Homo sapiens: one gene and its partners. The protein of the gene in region 3 interacts with the protein of the main gene of each other region in a pairwise test. Each region holds a gene or a part of one and is shown on either strand. Other genes may lie near its edges. The genes, in order: CD151, CD72 and GRAMD1C.

Region 1 (3,538 bases), on a different chromosome or scaffold from region 3:
GCCCTAAGGAGGCCCTGCTGTCCAGGCAGTGCTGCCAGCAAGCACCCCAGGTCAGATGTCCCTGCTGCCCAGATATCTGGCGTGGTGTCCTCTGGTAGGGGAGAACGGGTCTGCCTGAGGGTCTACAGTTCTGAGCCTTAAGGACAGGAACCTGGGCAGTGGGGGGCACAATCAGTGACCGAGCCCTGGCTCCCATCTCCAGGGTACCTCTGCCAGACACCAGGCTCTGGTACCTCCTACCCTCTGGCCCCCAGCAGGGCCTATAGGCTCCTCCATGTAAACCCCCTCACCCTACTGCCCCCACCCCACCTGCCTGACACCTCTTACCTGGGCACGGCCCCCAGTCTGCACCCTTCCCACGTCTGCTCCCCACCATGGCCAGAAGGGTTTTGGAAACCATTTTTCCTCTCCCCCAGGGGCTCTGAACACACCATCTCACCATTTAGGAACATGTTCAGTTCTTTCTGCTGAGGCCTGTGCTCAGCTGTCCCTGGCATCAGACCTCCCTTCCCTGGAGCCCCATGGGGGGTGTGTCCTCCTGGCTCTGCCCTTCTTTGTCCTGACACTGGGCGGGGCGGGGGTGGGTCTGTCTGCCCTGCTGGATGCGAGGGCCCTGAGAACAGACCACCATCTGTTACCAGCACAGCGAGCTCGTCCATCTGCTCTACAAGTGTTTATTGAGCACCTGTATGTGGCAGGGATGGTTGTAGGCATCTGGGTACAGCAGTGAACAAAACCAGGAAGGCCCTGCCCCGCAGAGGCACATGAACAGGGCAGTGCACAGTGACCACGTGGCATTTCGGGTGGTGGTGACTGCGGTGGGGAAGACAGCAGGGGCGCTGTCGAGGGAGACGAGGGCTGGGTTGGGAGGGGCAGAGGCCCAGGCCCAAGGGTCAGAGCTCACCTGGCTTCCCCAACTGGGATGGGGCCATGTGGCTGCAAGGCAAGGCCCCAGTTCCTGAAGGGCCTGGGGTGTGAAGGGTTTCTCCCCCTGCTGGGAACGCTCGGCCTTGCGCCACTCAGCAAGGCCCCTTCCAACCTGCATCTGACCACCAGGCAGAGAGTGTGTCTGGGGAGCCCCACAAAACACCCCCCAAACTTCGCCCCGCCAGCCCCCCTCACCTCCCCTGCTGGGCATTGGTGCGCAGCAAAAGGCACTTGAAGCTGCCTCTGAGGTTGGGGTCCCCAGAGGTTATGGTGATGGCACAGGGTGGGTGTCATCAGGGAGCCCAGCCCCTGGTACTCAGTGGTCTCAGCTCAGTAGTTGGGTGCAGCAGCAGCAAGGCCCAAGGCAGGGTCAGTAGTGCTCCAGCTTGAGACTCCTGTACAGGCAGCACGTGAAGATCATGCCAAAGACCTGTGTGCAGAGCCGGGTGGGCGTAAGCAGACGTCATGGGGCCACCAGCCACCGCCCTGCCCCGTGTCCCCAACAAGATGACCGCCACCCCCATGTGCCCTCACCTGCACACAGGCAATGCCGATCCCCACAGCCCCAATGACCCTCAGGTGCTCCTGGATGAAGGTCTCCAACTTGGTGATGCAGCCGCCCTGCGGGGCGCGGATGGGTGTTGAAGGCGGGCCCAGGGGGCACCTCCCACTGGCCCCTACTGCCTCCAGCCTCCAGGGTGTGGCCAAACCCACCCCTAGCACCTAGGCAGCCAGGCCACCAACAGCTCAGCCAGCCACTGGGCTGCCCACCCACTTCCTCGTAGATATTGGAGGTGTGGTCTCACTGCCCACATCCGGCCACTGGGGTGACCCCCCACCTCCTGGTAGATATTGGAGGCGTGTCCCACTGCCCACAGCCAGTCACTGGGGTGCCCCCCCACCACCTCGTAGACACTGGAGGCATGATCCCGCTGCACACCCACCTCCACCTTGTAGATGTTGGAGGCATGGTCTCGCTGCCCACAAAGAGCCACCACCGTCTTGCAGCAGCTGTCTGGGACCACACGGCCACCGGCCTCCTGTGAGCGGATCCACTCACTGTCTCGCCAGTCCTGTGAGTTGTTGCTGCCACAGCAGTGGAACTGCATCAAGAACAAGGCTGGGGTTGAGACCTGGGGCCAGAGGCTCCTGCAGAGGTCCAGGGAGGCCCTGGGGATGCACGCGCCCTCCCAGCACCACCCACCCACCTCCTGCTGCAGCTGGTCCACAGCGCTGGTCACAGCCTCATGGCCCGGCTGGTGGTAGCGCTTGGTCATGGTGTCCTTCAGGTTCTCCTTGAGCTCCGTGTTCAGCTGGGGTTGGGGTGCAGGAAACTTCAGCCTCAGTCTAAGACCTTCCAAGGTGGGGCTGGCAGAGCCCCAGGATGGCCGGTGGGGAGGCCCGGGGCCCAGCTCAGAGCCACAGGGAAGGGCTGAGGTCACACCTCGGCATGAGGGGAGGTTGGGTGGTGCCAGGACCGTCACCAGGGTGACAATGAAGTGCGGCAGAGGCAGAGAGAGCTTCTGGATCCCCTGGACACCTGCCTGACCCCATGTGCCCCTGCAGAGACCTAGACCCCATCTCCAGGGCCCAGTGGCACATTGGTTAGCTCTGGGACCATGGGGGTGGGGGTTGGGGCTAGCCACGCGTGTGCATGTGTGTGTGTCCGCCCCGCCTGTGCATGTCTGTGTCTCTGAATGGCCTGCCCAGGCCCCTCACCTGCTGGTAGTAGGCGTAGGCGAGGATACCAGCGATGATCTCCAGCAGAAAGATGATGAGGAGCAGGATGAAGTACTGGGGGGGGCAGCACAAGGGCACCCTTGTTCTGAGGCCTAGTGCCTAGACCTAGTGCACCTCAGAGCAGAGTCCCCACCCCGGCTCCCCAGGCTCCAGGTGGGGGCTGAGGGGCGGCCACCCTCCCTGAAGCTTTCTTGCGGAGCTGGTGTCTTCCCTCAGCTGGTCCAGCAGGAACGTGGGGACCCACAGGACTAGGCAGGTGTGGAAGGACCGTGACCCCCCCCCCAGGTGAGCACAGCAAGGCACAGGTTCAAAGCCTGCAGCGACAACCTCCTTGGGCCCATCTGCACCACCCCCACCCCGTGGCCCTGCGCCCTCCTGACCAGGCGCAGCAGGTTCCGACGCTCCTTGAAGGTGGCGCAGCAGCCCAAGACCCCAGTCACCATGACGACAGTGCCCGCCACCACCAGGATGTAGGCTGTGGCCAGGTAGGTGCCTGAGGCCAGCAGGCTGATGTAGTCACTCTTGAGGGCCAGCGTCCAGATGCCCACTGCCATGACAGCCAGGCCAGCCAGCTACAAGCAGTACACAAAGGTCATCGCATCTGCCCAGGTCTGATGGTGGCCCGGGAGGGGTGGGGGTGGGGGTGGGGGCAAGGCGACCCCTCCTCACCCAGAAGCAGCAATTGTAGGTAAACAGCAGGTACTTGAGGCAAACGGTGCCACATGTTGTCTTCTTCTCGTTGAACTCACCCATCCTGGGGCTGAGGAGGCAGGGGAGGGGTCAGCGGGGCCACAGCACCGGGCCCCTGACTGGGAGACGGATAGGAGGGGACACAGGGCCAGGCGCGGTGGCTCACGCCTGTAATCCCAGC
Region 2 (12,205 bases), on a different chromosome or scaffold from region 3:
AGCAATCTGGGAGGTCTGTCTTAATAGGGCTGATTTTATTACCCCAATTTCTGAACAATTGCAGTCCACCCTGACACTTTACCTAACATCTCTTGGGCCCATCTCCTCCACTCCCTAAAGCACCCCTCACTGCACATCCTCCACTCCTCCAGCACTGGCCCCCTCCGTCCCTCTCCAATTTCCTACAAGCAGAAAATGTTGTGTACTGTTTTGCAGAAACTGAGCTCTCTCCTTTTCCCTCCTCTCCACCTCAAAATTTCTCTTCTCTGTTCTTCTTTTCCTGACTATCCATAAGAAATAAATATCCCTCTTTCTTCAACATCCTACATCCCAATGTGCACTTCTGATCCCAGGCCACCTCTCTCCATTGCTTTGTTCCATCAGTCCTACCTTCATCACTCAAAAATCATTCCCTCTCCACTAGCTCCCTCTCTTCTCTCTACATATGCTCATGTCCCCACCCTGCTACTCCCTTGAGCTACTGTCCTATGGCAACTTAAAGGAATAAAAAGAAATCCCTGCTGGGCACAATGGCTCACTTCTGTAATCCCAGCACTTTGGGAGGCCGAGGCGGGGTGGATCACCTGAAGTCAGGAGTTTAAGACCAGCCTGGTCAACATGGTGAAACCCCACCTCTACTAAAAATACCAAAAAATACCCAGGCACCATGGCGCATGCCTATAATCCCAGTTACTCGGGAGGCTGAGGCAAAAGGATAGCTTGAATCCAGGAGGCAGAGGTTGCAGTGAGCCCAGATCACACCACTGCACTCCAGCCTGGGAGTGCACTTCAGTCTCACAGAGCGAGACTCCGCCTCAAAAAAAAAAAAAAAGAAATCTGTATGGCCAAATGGAAGAGGGTGAGGAGATAAGTGGCACACTGAAAGGTAGGCAGGAGTGATGGAAGCCATGTTAAGGATTTTTATTTTTATATTATGAGGAAGAGAAAGTCAGTGTAGGGTTTTACATAGAGGAATTTTGTTCACTAGCTATATCCCAAGTGCCTGGGCACAGTGCTAGAACATATTATATGTTATGTATTCCATAACTGTTTATGTAATCAATTAACTGGAATGCTGTAGATTGGGTGACACGATCAGATTTTTGTTTGTAAAAGATTACCCTGGCTCCAATATGAAGAATGGACTGCAGGGAGAGGAGTGAGTAGGAAAAACATTTAGAAAGCTGTTGCAGATATCCTTGCAAAAGATGAGGATGGGCAAAAATCCATATGGATATATAGACTTGGTGATGGAAAGTGAAGGGAATTCCTCTCTGAAAGAGTGGAAGATGAGGACATCTGCTGAAAGTGAGGGAGAAGGAGTTACTATGGAGAGCAAGCTGACCATTGCAAAGGTTGCCAGGCAGTGCTGAGAGACTAGAGTCTCAGTGGCACTGAGCAGAATGATTCCACAATTTGTCACACCTTGATGCTGACCATGGGCAGTTGGGTTCATCCAGAGTTCAAATTTTGCCCATCAGGTACACTAGAAGGATAATGGAACAAAGAAGTGAGTGAGCCAGGTGCGGTGGCTCACGACTGTAATCTCAGCACTTTGGGAGGCTGAGGCAGGAGGATCGCTTGAGTCCAGGAGTTCGATACCGGCCAGGGAAACATAGTGAGACCTTGTCTCTATTTAAAAAAATAAGTGAGTAGTTGAAGTGATGGGCTCCAAACCCATGTTAGGTAGGGAGAGAAGTGTGGACAGGAGAAGCTGATGGGAAGAGAGAAAAAGGGGAATCAGTTGATTGGAGGCCTGGACTGATGGGAAGGGAGAAAAAGGGGAGTCAGCAGATTGGAGGCCTTGATGAGATCAAAAAAGTGTGGGGAAAACCTGCAGGAGTGGTGGGCAGCTGTGATCAGAGTGGAAGTCTGAAACCATCCTTTCGCCGGAAGAGCAATTTGGGAGGTAGAGGTCTAACATGCTGCTAAGAGCAGCCCTGGCATGGAACTGATGGTCACAGAGGGTAAGGTTAAGGAAATGAGGGCAAGGGGTGTCTGCACATAATCTTGCTGTCTTATGCCTGGGGAGATCACCCAGATGACCCCCAAGCTAGACAGAGCCTAAACCTGATCATAGCCCAAAAACACCCCAGTCCCCTTAGGCGTGGCACCTTGCCTAGACCCTCAGCCTGTTTTGATACAGCCTTGCCTCTTTTATGTGTCCCTTTCCCCATCTCCACTTACTGGCTGGGGTCCTGCTTTCAAAATGAATGGACACCCCATCCTAGTTCCCTACACCACAACTCCCAGCTCCACCTCACTGTGAGTGCTGAGCGCCTCACTGCCTTGCCCCACCACCAGGTTGCACTCCATGTCAGCCAGTAAGTCTTACCCTTTGGGGAGATCTCAGCTATAACGAAAATTAATTAAAAATGAGGTCCCTGTCTTTAGAAAGATGTGCAAACCGCCAAGTTCACATCCAAATTTGGGGGCGTTCCCAGATCCTTGTCACTGATATCAACCGGAAGAAACCTTGGACAGTGTGATTTGGACTGCTGGCTGCCATCCTCCTCTCCCCTACAGGATGAGCCTTGGAGCTGGGTGGGTCCCCCTAAATCTAGTATGCAGCTTGGTCCTTCTCTCTGTTGGCCAAGGCTGAACAGCTCATGTCAGCCACCACTCTGGTTCACTGCCCCTTTCCTGAACACCTCACAGGCCCCTGGGTGATAGACTCCTGCCACTACTATCTCCTTGCTCCAATCCATCCCTCCCTTCTCTCCTCTCCCCAGAGCGGATACCTGCTGAGCCGCATGTGAAGAAGGGCTTCAGTCTGTTCTCCATGTTGCTCAGCTTCTGCTCCAAGGCCCTCCTCTGTTGCTCCTCACTTTGCAAGGTCTCCTTCGTCTTCTGTCTGTCTGCCTGGCAGGCCTGTAGCTGCCCTTCGGCCGCCTGATGAGCCCTCTGTTCCACCTGTAGTGCTTCCTGACTCTGCGCCAGCTCTCTCCTGGACCCCTGCAGATCCTCTGCACTCTGTCCCAGCTGCGTTATCTTGAGGCGGAGCTGCTGCCTCAGGCTGCTGTTAGTGACTTCCAGAACCCTGTTCGTCTGCTGGAGCTGCTGAGACACCTGCAGATCTGTTTGGCCACAGAGATTTGGTGGATGTCTTCTCCAGCCCTGCCCTAGTGCCCTGAGACTGCAGCATCAGCCCTTTTTCTGCTTCTTGCAACTTTTTGCATCACAGGCTGAAATACAAGATTTGACTGACTAAAGCGTAAGGAGGTACTGGATTAGGTGAGGACAATTCAGGAAGACAACAGCCCTGGCTGGAAACCAAACCCAAAGCTAAGGAGGTGGTGGTAGTGACTATGATCCCTGCTGAGGAAGATCAGCTTTGGGGCGAGAGTCGGGACGAAAGTCGTTCGGTGTAAGTGGGAAGTAGGGACAGCCTTACTCACAGCGCACTCCCAGGCAGATGGCGGTCACTCCTAACAGCAGGCAGGTGAGGAGCAGGCCGAGCAGGAGGTATCGCAGGCAGGTTGTGCGGCCTTAGGGGGACAGTGGGATGGATGAGGGCAGTCAGCCCCCGTAAAGAATGTAGAGAGGAAGGGACAGGTCCGTGGGGGAGACCCCTGGGGAAGGCATCCCTAAGAGGAGGGCGGTGCAGAGCTGAGGGGGCAAGCATGGTGGTTTCTGTCGGGTAGCGGGGTGTTTCGCAGGTAGGGGAGAGGGTGTTCCAGAATCAGTGCTGGTGGGGACTCGGGGGCGTTACCTGGGAGAAGGGGAAGGAAATATCAGACGGAGAGAGGGGAAGGGGGGCAGGTAGGTGAATTGGGACCATCCGCAGGGGGGCGGTGCACGTCGGATTCAGGCGCACCGGATGAAGGTGAATGTGGCACGGCAGCCCGGGCGTCGGAAGGACTGCGCCCGGGTTTATCCCGGAAGGAGCTGCACCCCGCGGGGCCCAGCGCCATCCGCAGCCGGGACAGGCGCGAGCACTTGGCCCCGCGGCTGCCCCGCACAGGCACACTCACAGGGGAGAATCCGCCCGACAGCTGGTGACGTCACGGCTCTCCAGGACGCAGTTGGCTGCTCCGACTTGACCGCTGTCGAGGGGAGCATCCAGTGTGAGACCGGAAGCCCCGAGTGTTGCCCCTTCTCCTCCTGCGCACCCGCTTCGCCCTCGCCACTGGGAAACTCCAGTCTGCCCTACGTTGCCTGCTAGAGCTGCTCTGGGACACAGTGTCACTCTCCTGAGTTCCTCCTCTGCCCGGGACTCTCTCGGCTTCCTCCTGGGTCTCACTGTATCTTTTCCCGGGACCCCCTCATCTCTCCTAGTTCTCCCTTTATCGTTTCCTCAGAGGCCCCTTATCTGTCGGCTCCAAACCCTCTCCCCCTTTGCTCTCATCCATCTCCCATCACCTCTTTTCCCTCCCATGGCTCCCCGTTTCCCATTAGAACTCATCCCCCACAGGGCTGCCCTATCCCTCCGCAGCCCTTATCTCCCCGAAAGGGGTCTCCACCTTGCGGGAGGAATCTTTCTTCCTCCCCTGGCTCCCATTTATCCTGTTCCTATTCTTCTGTTTCCTAAGAACCGCCCTCCTCCTTTCCCCAGGGTATTGTGCTCTCAAGAATACTGAGGGCCATGGCATGGGGGCGCACGCCTGCAATCCCAACACTTTGGGAGGCCAGGGCAGGAGGATCACTTGAGCCCAGGAGGTCGAGGCTGCAGTGAGCCATGATCACACCACTGCACTCCAGCCTGAGTGACAGAACAAGACCCTGTCTCAAGAACAACAACAAAAACATTGTGGACTCCCCAGCTCAAGACACAGCCCCCCAACAAACACACATCCCCCAGGCTCTCCAGACCTGCTTTGTCCCCTAGTACAGAAGAAGCCAAGCTTGAGGGCACCCCTAGGACTGCGGGCACTTGAACATTCTCGTAGGTGATTTCCCCATCATCATCAGCCCCTGGGTCTAGAGAGAAGAGAAAAGGGACCAAGGTGGGATTTGGGAATGGGATCTGTGGGGCGGGAAGTGGGGATGCAGGATCAAGGGGAGGCCTCATCCCCCTTACCCTGTCCTAACCGGCTGGAGATGCTCTTCTTCAGGGGAGCCTTCACAAACCTCAGATCTGCATAGGTGATGGCCTCAGCCATGGTCCTGAGCAGCTCTGCCCCCACTCGTCTTCCCTGTCATCCACTGTCCTCCCTTGCCCCTCTCGTCTCTGTCCGTTTACAACTAGGCTCTGTGTTCCCTCTGTGACTGCACGGCTTAGCAATTGGCCCTGTGACTTCCAGTCACAAAAGAGGAAGGTGTTAGCAAGTCTCAAACAGATGGGCTCAATGAAGCAGAAGGCATCCCTGGGCCAGGGCCAGAGGGGCCACGGAGGGGACGCTGAGGTCCAGAACACAGGGGTAGGGGATGGGCCTGTCCCCATGTCCTCCCTGTGCTTCCTCTCCATGCATCTTAAACCCATATGGGCCATGCTGGGCCCCAAACTCGGTCCTTCTGGTTATCTGCCCTGATCTGCCCCACCCTCCTCCTGGCTGCCTTGTCCACTGGGGCTTATGATGTGTAGCTGGAGCTGCACTGACCCAGACGATCTCCCCAGCTCCAGGGTGAGGCTCCGTTCTCCCCATGAGACTGGGGGTTCCTGGTTTGCATCCCTCGCTTCTCATCATCCTGGGGGTTCCAGTAACTGGGGGTTCAGGAACAGGCCTGGGCCAGAGGTGAAGGTAAGGAAGAGCCATGGCTGCAGCACCTCTGGAAAGGCAAGTGGCAGCACTGCCCCCCATGCACCCTCATGGGGAGCCAGGGAGCAGGTGAGCAAGGGAGTTGCAGAGGGCTTAAGAAGGCTGCAGCTTCCTAGGTGAAGTCAAGGCAGAGGAGCAGAACAGAGCCAGAGGCCGAGCGCAGATTCCGGACCAGCGGAGGTCTTGACATTTTCTTGGTTTGGTTTTGGTTCGTCTCTTACTTTCCTAGCAAAGTTCTTTCTTTAAAAAGTCCCAAAGCTGTCCCTTCCCACCCAGCCCCAAGGAAAAAGGGGGCATTTGTGGCGGAGGACCCAGGGACCGCGAGGCCCTCATAGGTGGTGGGGGCCTGGCTGATGGAGGAGAGAGGGAACCAGTTGGGGGAAAGGGGGCTGCTGAGCAGGGGTGCCCAAAGGTGCTCCCTAATGTTCTTTTACCGGGATGTGACCCCTACTAGGAACCCCAAAATGGCCTACATCCGGGATAGGAAGGAGCTAGAACAAGATGTAGTGTGGGGGTGGGAAGAACCCGCCCCTAGCAAAGTGACATCCGCCCCGCAGAATCCCCCTCCTGCAGCTGTGGGGAGGAAAAAGGAAGGGGGAAAAGGTCCTCACCACATGCCAACAGCTCGGATGATTGGTGGTGTGTGGCAGGACACTGCCAGGGACCCTAGAGCTCTGCCAATAGCTCCGCCCAGCCAGCCCTAGAGGAAGTGGCCACTGAGGCAAAGCTGTGACCTCAAAAATGTACTTGTAGAGAGGCACGTGTGCATGTGTGTGCATGGATATGCATGTTCCCAGGACTTTGCAGTCTGTTAGGGCATCTGTGAGGTGAGCGGCTATGTCAGAGCCTGCCTGGAGGAGGAAGCCTTCTGTGGGCTGAAGGCTGCCTGTGATCACTGTTATTTTCCATGGCAGAGAATGACGGGTCATTTTCAGAAAAGTCGTCAAAGGTCATCACAAGAGATCCTACAAGTATTTCCTTTTTGAAGCTCACTGTTTCCTAAGGTGCCTCTGCAGCTGTTAACTGTCCTTGCTTGATTAAAGTTTCCAACAACCTAGACCTTCCCCCAGATACAGAGAGTGGTATGTGGTGGTGACTCCCTGGGGACCTCAGGGGCCCTGAGAGTGAGTGGGAGGGTATAGAGCAGCTGGTGGCAGGGGTGGGTGGGGTGGGAAGAGTCAAATACTTGAACCTGTGGTGTACAGGGGGTGGGTGTGGGCAGTGTGTGAGTAAATCAATTGCAGGAACATTTGCAGGAGTTCCACAAACTGTAGAATGTCCCAGTTTTCAGATCCAATACACAGGTGAACATGATGTAGATGCCAGGTAAAATGCCAAAACCAAGCTTCTAGTCTGCACTCAAAAAGGTGTCTGTGGCCAACATAGTGAAACCCCGTCTCTACTACAAAATACAAAAAAATTAGCCTGGTGTGGTGGCTCGAACCTGTAGTCCCAGCTACTCAGGAGGCTGAGGCAGGAGAATCGCTTGAACCCAGGAGGTGGAGGTTGCAGTGAGCCAAGATCACACCATTGCACTCCAGCCTAGGCAACAAGAGCAAAGCTCCATCTCCAAAAAAAAAAAAAAAAATGGAATACATGGGCTTGCTGCCTAACTTGACCTGTAGAGAGGCTTAAGAAGGGGATCTCCTGGCCGGCATGGTGGCTCACACCTGTAATCCCAGCACTTTGGGAGGCTGAGGTGGGCGGATCACCTGAGGTCAGGAATTTGAGACTAGCCTGGCAAACATGGTGAAATCCCATCTGTATTAAAAATACAAAATTAGCTGAGAATGGTGGCATGTGCCTGTAATTCCAGCTACTAGGGAGGCTGAGAATTGCTTGAACCCGGGAGGCAGAGGTTGCAGTGAGCCGAGATTGTGCCCATCCTGGGCCACAGAGTGAGACTCTGTCTCCAAAAATAAAAAAAAATAAAAAAAAGAAGGGGATCCCCAGATGGAACTGCACACCGCAATATCTTGAATGTCTTAACCAGGCTTGTTCTATATTTTTCTCCTCTTTAGCTCTTTTGGTGATGGTTACATATCTTTTCATCACAGGCCGCATTCGCTTCTGTCTTAGACCAGCTTGTAGCCTTCCTTTGTGAACAGGGTAAGAGAGTAGGATCCTTCCCCTTCCCCACGTGTGTCACTTGGGGTCTTTACAGTTTTGACATTCACATTACATTTAGAGGCTGGACATCAGAAAAGATACCTGTAACTCCAAGCTGTACCTCTACTGCCCAAATATCAGGGAACTTTTAAGAGGTGAGGGGTCAGTGCTGTACATTTCAGCTTTTCCAGAACCATACTATCATCATCTGAGAGCCTGGAGGGCAGACACTAACACCCATGTTTTGCCCTCTCCTGGCCTCCCCACTACTCATTACAGGGAATGGGTGTTTACGGTTGACAAGAGGAGGGGGCCCAACCATGAGGGCATCAGATAGAATTTGCCATGTGGAAGGGGGCTCACCTGATCAACTTTGTGTCATTGATACAGTCTATGTCAGGACATCGGGAGCATCTCCTAAGACTCTGAAAGTCAGGCTATATCTGTCTTCATTACTTTAACCCACTGGCCTCCGGGAAGCCCTAGTTTACTGACAGGGTGTGGTAGCCAGAATAATGGCCTCCCAAAAATGTTCACACCCGAATCCCCAGAACCTGTGACTATGTCACTTTACCTGACAAAATGTAGATGTGGCTATGTTAATCAAGGTCCTTTAGATAGAGAGATTATCCTGTTTTATCTTGGTAGGCACACTCTGATCACATGAGTCCTTGAAAGGGAGAACCTTTCCCATCATGGGAAGAAAGAGATTCGGTGAGGGAAGGAGGGCCAGAGAGACGCCACAGGAGAAACACTCAACCCATAGGTCCTGATTTTGAAGGTGCAGGAAGAGGACCTTGAGCCAAGGAATGCAAGAAGCCTCTGAGAGCTGGAAAAGGCAAGGAAGCAGATTTTCCCCTTCAGCATCCAGAAAGGAACCAGCCCTGCAGACACCTTGACTTTAGCCCAGTGAGACCTGTGTCGACCTGATCTCCACAACTGTAAGACAATAAATTTGTATTGTTTAAGCCACCAAGTGTGTAATTTATTAGAGCAGCAAGAGTTTCGTGAACTGTGGAGGAAGCATGATGTAATAGAAAGAATAGGGAGACTCTGGTTAAAGAGACCAGCCTTGCCACAGTATGTGACTTTGGGCAAGTGACAGTTTTCCATCTGTAAAATACAAGATAGTCTGACCTCAATCAAGAGTATGATTGCTGGAGACACACTAGGTGTGGACTTTACAAACGCCTCTTTAAAATCTGTCACAAAGGCTTCAGAGTCAGGAGGGAGAAAAATGGGCCACCTGATTGCACCATGAGGGAGACTTGGATTTCTTTGATCACTGAAGCCAAAGAGTACAGATAGGTCTTCGGTGACTTGCCCCAGGCCTCTCCTTGGTCCTGCCTCAAATGGTGACACAGAAAGCACGTTCTCTGTGCTTAATGGCACAGAGCTGAAAAGCAAATACATCAAAAGGCCAACTCAAGATTCAAGCCTTGCAACAAGGCAAAATGATGGCTCCAAACCACAGAATGAAATGTCATAAAAATAATAACAGCAGGCCAGGCACGATGGCTCACGCCTGTTATCCCTTGGGAAGCCAAGGTGCACAGATCACAAGGTCAGAATTTCGAGACCAGCCTGGCCAATATGGTGAAACCCCGTCTCTACTAATAATACAAAAATTAGCCGGGCATGGCGGCGCACACCTGTAGTCCCAGCTACCCAGGAGGCTGAAGCAAAAGAATCGCTTAAACCCGGGAGGCAGAGGTTGCAGTGAGCCAAGGTGGTGCCACTGCACTCCAGCCTGGGTGACAGAGCGAGACTCTGTCTCAAAAAAAATAATAATAATAATAATAATAATAACAGCAAAGTCAGGCACAATGGCTCATGCCTATAATCCCAAGACTTTGGGAAGCTGAGGTGGGAGGATCACTTGGGCCTAGGAATTCGAGACCAGACTGGCCAACACAGCGAGACTCCATCTCTACAAAAAATTTAAAAATTAGGCAGGTGTGATGGCACATGCTTATGGTCTCAGCTTCTTGGGAGGCTGAGTGGGGAGGATTGTTTGAGCCCAGGAGGGCGAGGCTGCTGTCAGCCATGTTTGTGCCACTGCACTCTGGCCTGGGCAGCAGTGAAACCCTCCCTCAAAAAATAAATGAATCAAAATTAAAATAAAAAAAAGATAATACAGCAAGCATTTATTGAAAAATGAAATTTGGAATTCAAAAAATAAATTGCATAAGCATAGGATGGAGGGAGTCCTGGGTTAACAATTGTTTATGTAACAAAGTTTGAGGAGAAAGGCAGTTATTATTTTACACTTGAAGGGATCTTAGAGAGCCCAGCCTGCTTATTTTACAAATTGGGAAACTGGACTCAGCAGGCTGTAAGCGCCTTATAAACTGACCCAGTGACTGGAAAGAAGCTTGTGACAAAAGGCTGCCACATAGAACTGTAGCCCCCTTACCAAATACATCTAACATTGTGCCAGCCACACCTATAGCCCTTTTTTTTTGTTTTGTTTTTTACTTTGTGTTTTTTATCCCATACTTAAATACTACCTATAGCCCTTTTTAAGCAGGCAAACCCCTGCTGATGAGGCAGCCCTAGTCCCCAGAAATTGTGTCTTGTGACCTCCAACCCCTTTGACCTCAGCTGATTAAAATTAGCAAGCGAGGCCTGGCGCAGTGGCTCACACCTATAATCCCAGCTCTTTGGGAGGCCGAGGCAGGCGGATCACCTGAGGTCAGGAGTTCAAGACCAGCCTGGCCAACATGGCGAAACCCCGTCTCTACTAAAAATACAAAATTAGCTGGGCATAGTGGTACATGCGTAATCCCAGCTACTCAGGAGGCTGAGGCAAGAGAATAGCTTGAACCCAGGAGGCGGAGCTTGCAGTGAGCCGAGATTCCACCACTGCACTCCAGCCTGGGTGACAGAGCAAGACTCCGTCTCAGAAAAAAATGGGTTAAAAAGACAAATTTATAAAGGCCAGGCCCAGTGGCTCACGCCTGTAATCCCAGCACTTTGGGAGGCTGAAGTCGGTGGATCACGACCAGCCTGACCAACACGATGAAACCCCATCTCTACTAAAAATACAAAAATTAGCTGGGCGTGGTGGCACATGCCTGTAATCCCAGCTACTCGGGAGGCTGAGGCAGGAGAATCACTTGAACCTGGGAGGCGGAGGTTGCAGTGAGCCAAGATCACACCACTGCACTCCAGCCTGGGCGACAAAGGGAGACTCTGTCTCAAAAATAATAATAATAATAATAATAATAATAATAATAATAATAATAATAATAAATTTAATTTAATAAAAATATAAAATGAGCAAGTGGGCCTCTGCCTAAGGCTGGCCAGTCCATGGACAAGCCAGCGACCTGGACATCAGGATGAGTTTATCAAATGCCAATTTTCAGGAATTTAAGTGGGAAAATATGGAGATGACCACTGAGTTGGCAGTGGGAGTTAAAGATGAAAGGATGTATAGAGAGCATCTACCTTGACCCACAGAATTCTCCATACCTAGCGATCGTGCCTGGCTACTCCTAGCTCACATACTTAGTGGGGAGCGATTACCCTGGCAGAGGTGACTGAACCTGATTGCCTGATTATCATGAGGGGTTAGGGCTGCTGCTACATACTGTAGGAATGTCCAGGCACACCTCATTTTATTGCACTTCACTTATTACGCTTCACAGATACTGAGTTTTTTACAGGTTGAAGGTTTATGGCAACCCTGTGGCAAGCAAGTCTACTGGTGCCATTTTCCAACAGCACGTGCTCACTTCGTGTCTCTGTGTCATCACATTTTGGTAATTCTTAAAATATTTCAAACTTTTTTCATTATTATTGTATCTGTTATGGAGATCTGTGATCAGTGATTTTTGATGTTAATATTGTCATTGTTTTGGAGCACCATGAACCATACCTATAAGACATTGAACTTAATAAAAGTTGTGTGTGTTCTGACTGCTCCACTGACTGGCTATTCCCTGTCTTGCTCCCTCTCCTTGGGTCTCTCTATTCCCTGAGACACAACAATCTTAAAATTAGGACAGTTAATAACCCTACAATGGTCTCTAAGTGTACAAGTGAAAGGAAGAGTTGCACATCTCTCACTTTACATCAAAAGCCAGAAAGGATTAAGGTTAGTGAGGAAGGCATGTCCAAAGCCAAGATAGGCCAAAAGCTAGGCCTCTTATGCCAGTTAGCCAAGTTGCAAATGCAAAGGAAAAGTTCTTGAAGGAAATTAAAAGAGCTACTCCAGTGAACACAGAAATGATAAGAAAGCAAAACAGTCTTATTGCTGATATGGAGAGCGTTTGAGTGGTCTGGATAGAAGATCAAACCAGCTACAACATTCTCTTAAGCCAAAGCCTAATCCAGAGCAAGACCCTAACTCTCTTCAATTCTCTGGAGGCTGAGAGAATTGAGGAGGCTGC
Region 3 (12,138 bases):
TTTGTTCCTCTGTCTGCTCAAGTCTATTTGAATTACTCTAGTGAATTTCTCATTTCAGTTATTGTATTTTTCAGCTCCAGAGTTTCTATGTGGTTCCTTTTGTAATTTATATCTCTTTATTGATATTCTTCATTAGGTGAGACATTGTTCTCATGGGTCTCTTTTGAATTTGATTTCTTTTAGCTCTTTGAGCATATATGAAATAGTTGATTTAAAGTTTTGTTTGCCTAATGCTCAGGCTTCATTAGGGGCTGTTTCTATTATTTTTCTCTGTATATGGGTCAAACTGTCTTGTTTCTTTGTGTACCTTATAATTTTTTGTTGAAAACTGGACATTTTGAATATTATAATGCAGCAACTTTGTTTTTTTTGAGACAGAGTCTTACTCTGTCGCTCAGGCTGGAGTGCAGTGTGCAGTGGTGTGATCTCGATTCATTGCAGCCTCCATTTCCCCAGTTCAAGAGAGTCTCGTGCCTCAGCCTCACGAACTACAGGCACCCACCACCAGGCCTGGCTAATTTTTGTGTTTTTAGTAGAGATAGGGTTTCACCATGTTGGCCCGGTTGGTCTTGAACTCCTGACCTCAGGTGATCCACCTGCCTCAGCCTCCCAAAGTGCTGGGATTACAGGCATGAGCCACTGTGCCTGGCATAATGCAGCAACTTTGAAAATCAGGTTGTACACCTCCCCAGGTTTTACTGTTGCTGCTTATTTTAGCATTTATTTGTGGTTTGTTAGTATCTTTTATAAACTACTTTTTTATGTTATGGTAAAATATACACAAGATAAAATTAACCATTTTATCCATTTCAAGTATGGTTCAGTGACATTACGTGCATTTATATTGTGTAATGATCACATCTCCAGAACTTTTTCTTCACCCCAAACTGAAACTTTGAACCAGTTAAATAAAGCCCCATTCTGCCCTCTTCATAGCCCCTGGAAACCACCATTCTACTTCCTTTCTCTATGAATTTGACTACTCTAGGTACCTCATACAAGTCAAACTAATTTTGTAAAGTTTGTATTCTTTGTTTTATGTGGCCACATAAGTCTCTGTTCTGTCAGATTAGAAAAAAATAAAAACCGAGGAAGAAAAATACATACAGAAACAAGCAATTATCTTCCAGTCTTTGCAGACTGGCTTTCTGTGTGTGCTGGGTATGCCTGTAACACCCAGCCAGGCAGTTTATATCTCTGCCTTAGCCGAGCAAAAAGTCAGCCAGAGGTGGAAGTTTAGGGCCTTCTTAGGTCTTTTCTGAGCATGTTCCCAGCTTTGGGCATGGATGTGGCCTTCTGGATTCCCAGGAATTTGTGAGAGTTTTTCAAAGCCCTTATTCAGATTGTCCATTGTTTGCCTGAACTGTTATCCCTTGCCCCAAGTGATACTGGTAATATATTTGCCTTCAAATTTTTTCTTTTCTTTTCTTTCTTTCTTTCTTTCTTTTTTTTTTTTTTTGTGTGTGTGCGTGTGTGTGTGTGACGAGTTTTGCTCTTGTTTCCCAGGCTGGAGTGCAATAGTGCTGTCTTGGCTCACTGCAACCTCTGCCTCCTGGGTTCAAGCAATTCTCCTGCCTCAGCCTCCCAAGTAGCTGGGATTACAGGCTTGTACCACCACGCCCAGCTAATTTTTGTATTTTTAGTAGAGATGGGGTTTCTCCATGTTGGTCAGGCTGGTCTCGAACTCCCAACCTCAGGTGATCTGCCCCCTCAGCCTTCCAAAGTGCTGAGATTACAGGCGTGAGCCACCATGCCCGGCCCAAATGTTTTCAATAAATACTCTACCTGCCCCCTCTACCAACATTCCCCCACCAACACCTGCCCAAGGCAGGTGTCCTACCCTTGGAAGAGTTCTGAGATAAAATAAGGCAAACAAGTCCTTGAGCCTTCAGGGAGCCACCAAACAGGTCAAAGCAAACAGATAACAATTCTTCGAGAATAAGGTCTGTACTGCTACCTCTGATACTACGAATCAGTACCAGGAATGTGGGCTATTGTAGAGTAGGGGATGGTACCAGGGTAAGTTAAAATAAAATGTCACAAAAGTCTTTTACTGAGACTCAGCTGTTTTTTCTTAATTAAGCATTCCCCTGATTGTGGTAAGGTTTTGGTGACATTCCAGATTTCCAAATAAATTGTTTCTGACAGCTCTTGCCACCTTTTTTGTTGCTTTTGTGGAAGTACAGACTTTTGAAGTTCCCCACTCTGCCATTTTCGTTGATGTTGCTCCTCCTCATTCTTTTAAAAATTATTATGAAACTGCACAGAATTCCAAATTCTAATGGATGGAGGTTTGTCATTTATTTAACCAGTCCTTTATTGATGATGATTTGTTTTCAATTTTTACTACCAACTATTCTTCTAGGAATAACTTTGGATTATTTTGCATGTGTGCAATTAAATCTATAGGAAAAATTGCAGAAGTTGGTACTGCTGAAGAGTATATGCATTTTGTAATTTTTGAAGCTATTGCCAAATTCGCTATATTACTTTACACCTCCATTATTATTATTATTATTTTGAGACAGAGTCTCACCCTGTCACCCAGGCTGGAGTGTAGTGGTGCAATCTTGGCTCACTGCAACTTCCGCCTCCTGGGTTCAAGCGATTTTCCTGCCTCAGCCTCCCAAGTAGCTGGGATTACAGGCGCCTGCCACCACGCCTGGCTAATTTTTGCATTTTAGTAGAGACAGGGTTTCACCATGATGGTCAGGCTGGTCTCGAACTCCTGACCTCAAAGGATCCACCTGCCTTGGTCTCCTGAAGTGCTGGGATTACAGGCATGAGCCACCGCACCCAGCCTCTACACTTCCATTATAAGAGTCCTGTATCCCCACGGTCTTGTCAGCAGAATGCGTTTTCAAATTTCTGTACTTTTTGTCAAACTAGTAAGTGAAAAATAGTATTTCAGTGTGGTTTTAATTTCTATGCTATTCTGAGTGAAACTGAGGATCTTTTATATTTTTAAGAGACATTTGCCCAGGCACGGTGGCTTACACCTGTAATCCCAGCACTTTGGAAGCCCAAGGAGGGTGGATCATGAGGTCAGGAGTTCGAGACGAGCCTGATCAGCATGGTGAAACTCTGTCTCTACTAAAAAAAAAAAAAAAAAAATTAGCTGGGCGTGGTGGTGGGCACCTGTTATCCCAGCTACTCCAGAGGCTGGGACAGGAGAATCGCTTGAACACAGGAGGTGGAGTTTGCAGTGAACTGAGGTCGTGCCATTGCACTCTAGCCTGGTGACAAAAGTGAAACTCCGTCTCAAAAAAAAAAAAAAAAAGACACTGATATTTCCTTTTCCATGAACTTTCTGACATATACTTTAACAATTTTAACTTGACTATGGTTTTTCCATATGTTTTTCTGGGAGCTGTTTACATATTAGTGTGATCTCACTTTAAATACATGACCATTAATCTCCTAATTAAGCATTCCCCTGATTGTGGTAAGCAGGGATTTCTGGGAGCTGTTTACATATTAGTGTGATCTCACTTTAAATACATGACCATTAATCTCAATGAGGCATTTGTGTTGCCCAGCAATGCTACTGTTTTACTGTTTTCCTAAAACATTAGTCAGTTCATTCACCTGTGCTCCTAAGTATTTCATAATTTCTCCTTTCTCTTCAAACTTCTAACAACTTTTCTTCCATATTCACTTTCACCTTATGTTCTATTTCACTGCAAAATATATCAATGCTCTTCAGCCAAAGTCCAGGAGAACCATAGCTGTAGTTAGACAACATTGTGTTTATTGACTCATTGCAATGAGGGTGAAAAAATACCATGGAGAACCATGAGGACATCTCAGTGAAAGGGTGTTAGAAAGGTCTTACTACAGGATTTGGGTTTGTGTTCAGTGATTTTGCGAGGAGGATTCAAGAAGTGGAGCTTTGTCCCAGATTACATATTGTCAATAAGATGTGGTTATTCTGATTGGGTATCTTAATACATCTTATCTAGAAGGTAGGTGGAATAAAGTGAAGCTAAAGCTGTTATTGGGAAAAAGGCAGCAGTCAGTCATATTAGTCAGCATAGGGACATAGTCATTTCTGTGTTTCGAACGATGTTCACATTTTTGTCTGTGTTTAGACATGATTACCCAGTGGCCTTCTTTTTGTCTTACTCTATCATGATCATACAGTGGCCTTGCTTAATATTAGTGTTCTGTGACGTTTTTTATGTTTAACAGAACACAGTTTATGCAAAGTTTTGCAGAATGAGGATGGAAACCTGTCTTTTACTGATTATCTTATTAAGTAATTTGTCCTTTAGTATGTCATATATATTTAAGAAATATGCTCATGGCCAGGTGCAGTGGCTCACGCCTGTAATCTCAGCACTTTGGGAGGTTGTGGCGGGTGGATCACTTGAGGCCAGGAATTTGAGACCAGCCTGGCCAACATGGTGAAAGCCCATCTCTACTAAAAATACAAAAATTAGCCGGGCATGGTGGTGGGCGCCTGTAGTCCCAGCTACTCAGGAGGCTGAGGCAGGAGAATTGCTTAAACCTGGGAGGCAGAGGTTACAGTGAGTCAAGATTGTGCCACTGCACTCCAGTCTGGGGGACAGAACGAGACTCTGTCTCAAAAAAACAAAAACAAAACAAAACAAAAAAGAAATACACTCAGTGTCTGACATTTTGTGGAACTGGATTCAACTCCTTTCCATCTCTTCAACTTTACATTATGATTTTTAAATATATGTAAACAGTAAAAGAATAACTGAATAGTAGTATACCCTCCACTTAGGTCCAATAATTAACGTTTCGCTATTTTGTTTTCTCTGTGTATTCATCTTCGTGGAAGCATTTGGAAGCAAGTTGCAGACATGGTGCTACTTCACTCCTAAATACTTTTTTTTTTTTACATCCCCATGGATAACAGGGAACTCCTAAATATTTTAGTGTGAGTTTTCTAATATTAAAGACACCCTGCAACATAGCCACAAGTTATTATTATTATTATTATTTATTATTATTATTTGAGACGGAGTTTCACTCTTCTTGCCCAGGCTGGAGTGCAATGGCCTGATCTCGGCTCCCTGCAGCCTCCACTTTCCAGGTTCAAGCGATTCTCCTGCCTCAGCCTCCCAAGTAGCTGAGATTACAGGTGCTCACCATCACGCCCGACTAATTTTTGTATTTTTAGTAGAGACAGGGTTTCACCATGTTGGCCAGGTTGGTCTCAAACTCCTGACCTCAGGTGATCCTCCCACCTCAGCCTCCCAAAGTGCTGGGATTACAGGCTTGAGCCACCACGCCCAGCTGCCAAAAATTATTAATTATCCATAAATGAATATCCATAAATGTATACATAAATCATTAATTATCCTGTAACATCAACTCTAATAGCCATTTCATATTCACTATTCCTCAATTGTTCTAGAATGTCTTCCCTCCCTCCCTTCCTTCCTTCTTTCCTTCCTTCCTTCCTTCCCTCTCTCTCTCTTTCTTTCTCTCTCTCTGTCTCTCTTTTCTGGAGATGGGGCCCCCCTGTTTTGCCCAGGCTGGTCTTGAACTCCTGGACACAAGCAACCCTCCCACCTTAGTCTCCCAAAGTGCTGGAATTACATGAGTTAGCCACTGTGCCTGGCTTAGAATGTCTTTTTTATAGCTGTTTGGTTGGGAACTCTGAACCCCAAATATCTGAGACAGGCCTCAGTTAATTTAGAAAATTTATTTTGTGAAGGTTAAGGACACACCTGTGACACAGTCTCAGGAAGTCCCAATGACATGTGTCCAAGGTGGTTGGGGTACAGCTTGCTTTTATATATTTTGGGCAGACCTAATACATCAATCAATACATGTAAGATTTACATTGTTTCAATCTGGAAGGGGAGACAGCTCCAAGGCGAGAAGGAGGAACTTTCAGGTCATTGGTACATAAAAAAATTTTCTGATTTGCAATTGGTTGAAAGCGTTATTATTGACTGGGAGCTGTGGCTTGCACGTGTAATCCCAGCACTTTGGGAGGCCGAAGGGGGCAGACTGCTTGAGTCCAGGAGTTCGAGACCAGTCTGGGCAACATGGCGAAACCCTGTCTCAAAAAACAAACAAACAAACAAACAAACAAACAAACAAAGTAGTTAAGCATGGTGGCACACGCCAGTAGTCCCAGCTACTCGAGAGGCTGAGGTGGGAGGATTGGTTGAGTCCGGGAGGTGGAGGTTGCAGTGAGCAGAGATTGCGCCACCGCACTCCAGCTGGTCTAATAGAGCCAGAACCTGTCTCAAAAGAAAAAGAGAAAAAAGAGTTATTATCAGTAGAAAGGAATGTCTGGGTTAGGATAAGGGGTTGTGGATACCAAGGTTTTATCATGCAGATGCAGCCTCCAAGTAGCAGGTGTCCGAGGCAATAGATGATAAATATTTCTTCTCAGACTTAAGGTCTGTGTTGATGTTAATGAGGCATGTCCAATCCCCTCTTTCATCATGGCCTGAACTAGATTTTCAGGTTAAATTTGGAACGCTCTTGGCCAAGAGGAGGGGTCCATTTAGATGGCTGGGGGTGGGCCTCGGCATTTTATTTTTGGTTTACAGAACCAAGAATCTGCAATACGTACAGCAGTTAATCAGTAACTTCAATCCTTTATTGGAAGGAACAAGAGTTTCCTGGCCGGGGGCGGTGGCTGACGCCTGTAATCCCAGCACTTTGGGAGGCCAAGGCCAGCGGATTGCCTGAGGTGGGGAGTTCGAGACCAGCCTGACCCACATGGTGAAACCTTGTCTCTACTAAAAATACAAAAATTATCCGGGCGTGGTGGCAGGCGCCTGTAACCACAGCTACTCGGGAGGCTGAGGCAGGAGAATCGCTTGAACTGGGAGGCGGAGGTTGCAGTTAGCCGAGACGGGGCCTTGGCACTCCATCCAGCCTGAGGAATGAGAGCGAAACTCCGTCTCAAAAAAAAAAAAAAAAAGTTTCCGAGCAATTCACCTTTTCGCACATTGGGGCAGGGTATGCCATTTCCTGGGAGGCACAGTAGTTTGAGGTTGGGAATAGGGAAGTCTCATTGTGACCCCTAGAAAGACAAGCCTTCAGGCTAACCCGGTAACACCCATCGTCAGGAATCCTTCACGGCCGCCAGAGGGCGCAAGGAGCTGCGGCTGGAAGTACTCGGAGGGCCGGCGGAGGAGGCGCGCGGAGCCTGTAACTCGCAGCGCGCGCTGGAGGTGGGCGCGGGGCGGTGCGGTGCGGTGCGCGCGGGGCGGTGCCGCGGCGGCGGAGGGAGCCGCGATGGAGGGCGCTCCGACTGTCCGTCAGGTAAGCCGCGGGCCTCGCTGGGGCAGGTTCCCATCTGTGGCTTTAGCCTACTTTTTCTCACGGTGATTGCTTGAACCTTCTCAGATTACAGTTAATCCCTCCCTTCCCTTTTCTTCGTGCTCTTTGGAGTAATACGGAAAGTTGTTACCGAGGAAACGGTTTCCTGTGCCTCTGCGAGCCCTTTCCCTACGGGCGGTGGTGGGGACATTTGCTTCCCTGTGGGCGTTGAGGGCTTGAATTTGGTCCCGAAATGTCCTGGTGCGGATGTCTCAGCCCCAGGCCCCCTTGGGTCAGGCCCCATGGTCGTGATTCTGACCCACTGTCAACGTTTTTTCCAGCCTTGCCCCCTTCCTTTCATTCTCAGCCCTGTTGTAAAGGTCCGGATAGTTTAAATCACTGTGCTGTCAGCCAAGTTTTTGATTTCAACTAGTCTAGTTTTATTTGTTTACTACCTTATTTGACAAAACGGAAAGCGTGCTTATTAATATTCAGGATGAAACCCCGCTTTTGTTGGACGGGCGCCTGCGTTTCTGAACACCATCCTCCTTCTACATTGGTTTGTGTGTATGTATTTTACTTTTAGAGAACTGCGGTCAGTGCTATATCTTCTGAAGAGCGTTATAGTTTACAGATTAGTGGAGGTACACAAATAATTGTTGAATGAACAGATGAATGAGTGTTATTTCACTTGATTTGAAAAACATTACTATGAAATAGTCAAGCTGGATATTCATGAACCCAATCAGTCACTGATTCAGTTATGTCCCTGGCACTGGGTGTTCGGGATTAGATGGTGATTAACACAGACATGATCCCTGCTCTCAATAAGCTTATTGTCTAGACTAGAGATAAAATTATTTCCTCTATTGTAGAGTTAAGGAACAGATGTACAGAGATTGACTTTGCTAAGGACCACACAGCTAATAAGTCAGAGAGACAGGAATCTACTGTAGCCACCCCAGAAAGCCAGAATGGACCCCCATCCCAAATTTGATTCAGGTGTAGAAACTGATGATGCCACACACACACCATGAGGTTGGAGTAGAAACTGATGATGCCACACACACACCCTGAGGTTGGAGTGCAGTGGCGCAATCTCGGCTCACTGCAAGCTCTGCCTCCCGGGTTCACGCCATTCTTCTGCCTCAGACTCCCCAGTAGCTGGAACTACAGGCGCCCGCCACCACGCCCGGCTAATTTTTTGTGTTTTTAGTAGAGACGGGGTTTCACCGTGTTAGCCAGGATGGTCTTGAACTCCTGACCTCATGATCCGCCCGCCTCGGCCTCCCAAAGTACTGGGATAACAGGCTTGAGCCACCACCGCGCCCGGCCCTGAAAAAGTCTTTTACTTACATAATTAAGGTCTCCAGGGAGAGCAAGGCAGGCCTCTCAAGCAGCACTAAAATGGCTTAAGAGAGCCTCAGGAAAAAACTGGCTCCAGGTCTTTTTTTCACCCTTGATGTTTGATGACTGACCTGCACCATTTGAATTTGAATTTGAATTTAAGTCAGCCATTGTGGCCCAGTGCAGTGGCTCATGCCTGTAATTCTAGCACTTTGGGAGGCCAAGGCAGAAAGAAGTATCGCTTGAGGACAGGAATTTGAGACCAGCCTGGGCAACAAAGCAAGACCCTGTATCTACCAAAATAAAAAAAAAAAAGAAAGAAAAATTAACTGGGCATGGTTGTGTGGCGCCTGTGGTCCTAGCTATTTGGGAGGCTGAGATAGGAAGATCACTTGAGCACAGGAGGTTGAGACTGCAGTGACCCCTGTTTGTGCCATTGCACTCCAGCCTGGGTGACAGAGACCAAATTATTTTCAGAAATTTAACCAAGGTGGTAGGCCTTACACTATGTGTGGCACAATAGCCCATCCTCCTTTTGTGAGCTCCTTTGTGAGTATGTCAAAAGACTGTCCTCAGGGGAGGATGTCATCAATGGAATGTTATACTTGTGCTCCTGGAGAAAATTTGATGCAGTTAAGATCTTTCCTGTAAAGGCTGTGTATGATGGCAAGACTGCGTACTCTATGGTTAGCCTGGTAAAGAGATGTTATGTCTCTCTGGAGGTGAAGACCAACTATGGCTGAGGAGGTGTTGAAAGAGACACTGAACAGAACATATTAGCCAAATCTATCACAGCAAAATATTTACTAGTTGTGGACTGGATAGTCAGTAATTTCAACAATGTTGAGTATAGGGGCCTTCCTGGGTAAAATGACATCATCGAGGATGCAGTAATGAACCATGAGGTACCATTCATTCTTACCAAATTTAACAGGCCAAATTGGGCTGTTAAATGGAGAAGCAGTAGGGATAATTACTTTCACAAAGTACTTCTTTCTTTCTTTCTTTTTTTTTTTTTTTTGCGAGACAGAGTCTTGCTCTGTCGCCCAGGCTGGAGTGCAGTGGCACAATCTCAGCTCACCGCAACCTCCACCTCCCGGGTTCAAGCAATTCTCCTGCCTCAGCCTCCCAAGTAGCTGGGATTACAGGCACGTACCACCACGCCCAGCTAATTTTTGTATTTTGTTTTAGTTGAGATGGGGTTTTACCATGTTGGTCAGGCTGGTCTTGAACTCCTGACCTCGTGATCCACCTGGCTTTCCCTCCCAAAGTGCTGAGATTACAGCATGGCGTGAGCCACCGTGCCTGGCTGAAGTAGGTCTTACATAACAAGTTTTAGTCCTTGAAGGCCCTGTTTTGTTTTATATTGGGTTGTATAATTTTAACTGGGCATTGAGAGTGGTGGTCCATAGGGTCTCACTGTTTTGTTTATTTTGAGACAGAGTCTTGCTCTGTCACCTGGGCTGAAGCACAATGGTGCAATCACAACTTACTGTGATCTCCAACTCTTGGACTCTGGCAGTCCTCCCACCTCAGCCTCCCAAGTAGCTAGGACTACATGTGTGTACCACTATGCCAGGCTAATCTTTAAATTTTTGTAGAGAGGGGGCCTTGCTGTATTGCCCAGCTTGTTCTCCATACTCTTGGCCTGAAGTGATCCTCCTGCCTCAGTCTCCCAAAATGTTGGGATTATACGTGTGAGCCAACATACCCAGCCTGTTGTCCCACTTCTTTGAAAGCCAATTTGTAAGCTCTAAAGACTTGATTTAAATTTAGTTTATTACTAATTGTGTCAGAGTGTCCATGGCCACAATAGGATATTTCAGGGCAATGTATACCACCATCGTGGAGTATTTAGGCAAAGGTATAGTTCTGATGGTTAAAGTGAGGCATACCTATTTGTTGTCTATTTTATGTTGAATAACTCCTAAGATTGTAGGGGATACCTTGTTTAAATTTAGTGGGAACTCTAGGTATAACTGTAATTTGAGACCCAATATTGATTAAAGCCATGAAGATTTGCCAATTGCCGCATTTTAGCTGATGTTGAAGTTAACTTAGAACCTATGTTGTAGAGGCACAAAAGCCAGTCTTTTATCTTTTATCCTGTAAATTATTTTAAATTCTGTATGTTTTGTTAGATCAGTTTATGGACTTCAGTTTCAGTTTTTTTTGTTTGTTTTTGTTTTGCTGTTGTATGTTTCCTCCCCTTCTATCCAGGTTTGTTGGTTTCTCCCTCTCTTTTTGGAGGTTACTGGATATACTTCAGGTGGAGGAGGTCTTCTCTACCCTCTCATGTTTACAAATTTCTTTCTCTAGAGAGCCTCAAATCAGTATCATTGTGATTAGAGGCTTCCCCCATGGCAATGGTTATTTATAGGGTTTAAGAACCTCAAGTTTGGCCAGGTGCAGTGGCTCACGCCTGTAATCCTAGCACTTTGGGAGGCTTAGGTGGGCTGATCACGTGAGGTCAGGAGTTTGTGACCAGCCTGGCCAACATGGTGAAACTCCATCTCTACTAAAAATACAAAAATTAGCCGGGTGAGGTGGTGCACGCTTGTAATCCCAGCTACTCGGGAGACTGAGGCAGGAAAATCGCTTGAACCCGGGAGGTAGAGGTTGCAGTGAGCCGAGATCACGCCACTGCACTCGAGCCTAGGCGACAGAGTGAGACTCTGTTTCAAAAAAAAAACAAAACAAAAAGAACCTCAAGCTTAAGTGGAGCAGCAGCAGCAGAGATATTTAAGGATCCTGGTCCACCATAAGCTGTTTTTTTTTTTTTTTTTTTTTTTTTTGTTCTTGTTGTTTGTTTGAGACAGGGTTTTGCTTTGCCGGCCAGCCTGGAGTGCTGTAGCTTGATCATGGCTTACTACAGTCTTGACCTCCCAGGCTCAGGCAATCCTCCCACCTCAGCCTCCTGAACAACTGGGACAATAGGCGCATGCCACCATGCCAGGCAAATTTTTTGATATTTTTTGTAGAGACGGGGTCTCACTATGTTGCCCAGGCTGGTCTCAAACTCCTGGGCTCAAGAGGTCCTCCTGCCTCAGCCTCCCAAAGTGCTGGGATTATAGGCATGAGTCACTGTGCCTGGCCCATATGCTTTTATAATGGCTACTCCTCCTTACTCCCCTATTCCATATTTGCTTTTTTCTTTTTTTAACTGCCTGATGAGTGATCTTACTTGAGCAATTACCCGATGGGCCCATATTTTTTTGAGACAGAGTCTGGCTCTGTCACCCAGGCTGGCATGCAGTGGTGTGATCTCGGCTCACTGCAACCTCCTCCTCCTGGGTTCAAGCAATTCTTCTGCCTCAGCTTCCGAGTAGCTGGGACTACAGGCCACCATGCCTGGCTAATTTTTTGTATTTTTAGCAGAGACAGGGTTTCATTATATCGGCCAGGCTGGTCTTGAACTCCTGGCCTCAAGTGATCCCAAAGTGTTGGGATTACAGGCGTGAGCCACCTCGCACAGCTGGCACATCTTATTTGTTTGTTTAAACTCCATTGTTTGTATAAATCAGAGCTTATTTA

The links.
Region 1: the proteins of GRAMD1C (region 3) and CD151 interact in binary tests that used the Homo sapiens proteins (3 or more experiments, as listed by UniProt).
Region 2: the proteins of GRAMD1C (region 3) and CD72 interact in binary tests that used the Homo sapiens proteins (3 or more experiments, as listed by UniProt).

Annotation. Positions count from the first base shown.
Region 1 is NC_000011.10:835,952-839,489, reverse strand, and holds the end of CD151 (CD151 antigen), read right to left. Parts: intron 3,428-3,538; 5' UTR 3,421-3,427; coding exon 3,337-3,420; intron 3,240-3,336; coding exon 3,048-3,239; intron 2,722-3,047; coding exon 2,647-2,721; intron 2,241-2,646; coding exon 2,136-2,240; intron 2,031-2,135; coding exon 1,872-2,030; intron 1,549-1,871; coding exon 1,462-1,548; intron 1,358-1,461; coding exon 1,298-1,357; 3' UTR 659-1,297; downstream 1-658. UniProt on the Homo sapiens protein: Structural component of specialized membrane microdomains known as tetraspanin-enriched microdomains (TERMs), which act as platforms for receptor clustering and signaling.
Region 2 is NC_000009.12:35,613,202-35,625,406, forward strand, and holds the start of CD72 (B-cell differentiation antigen CD72), read right to left. Parts: upstream 5,213-12,205; 5' UTR 5,103-5,212; coding exon 5,021-5,102; intron 4,921-5,020; coding exon 4,813-4,920; intron 4,047-4,812; coding exon 3,975-4,046; intron 3,489-3,974; coding exon 3,399-3,488; intron 3,186-3,398; coding exon of another isoform or gene 3,145-3,185; exon of another isoform or gene 3,078-3,144; coding exon 2,742-3,077; intron 1-2,741. UniProt on the Homo sapiens protein: Co-receptor of B cell receptor (BCR) that plays both positive and negative roles on B-cell functions. Recognizes the Sm/ribonucleoprotein (RNP) self-antigen ligand, and coligation of CD72 and BCR inhibits BCR signaling.
Region 3 is NC_000003.12:113,831,677-113,843,814, forward strand, and holds the start of GRAMD1C (protein Aster-C), read left to right. Parts: upstream 1-7,111; 5' UTR 7,112-7,233; coding exon 7,234-7,260; intron 7,261-12,138. UniProt on the Homo sapiens protein: Cholesterol transporter that mediates non-vesicular transport of cholesterol from the plasma membrane (PM) to the endoplasmic reticulum (ER).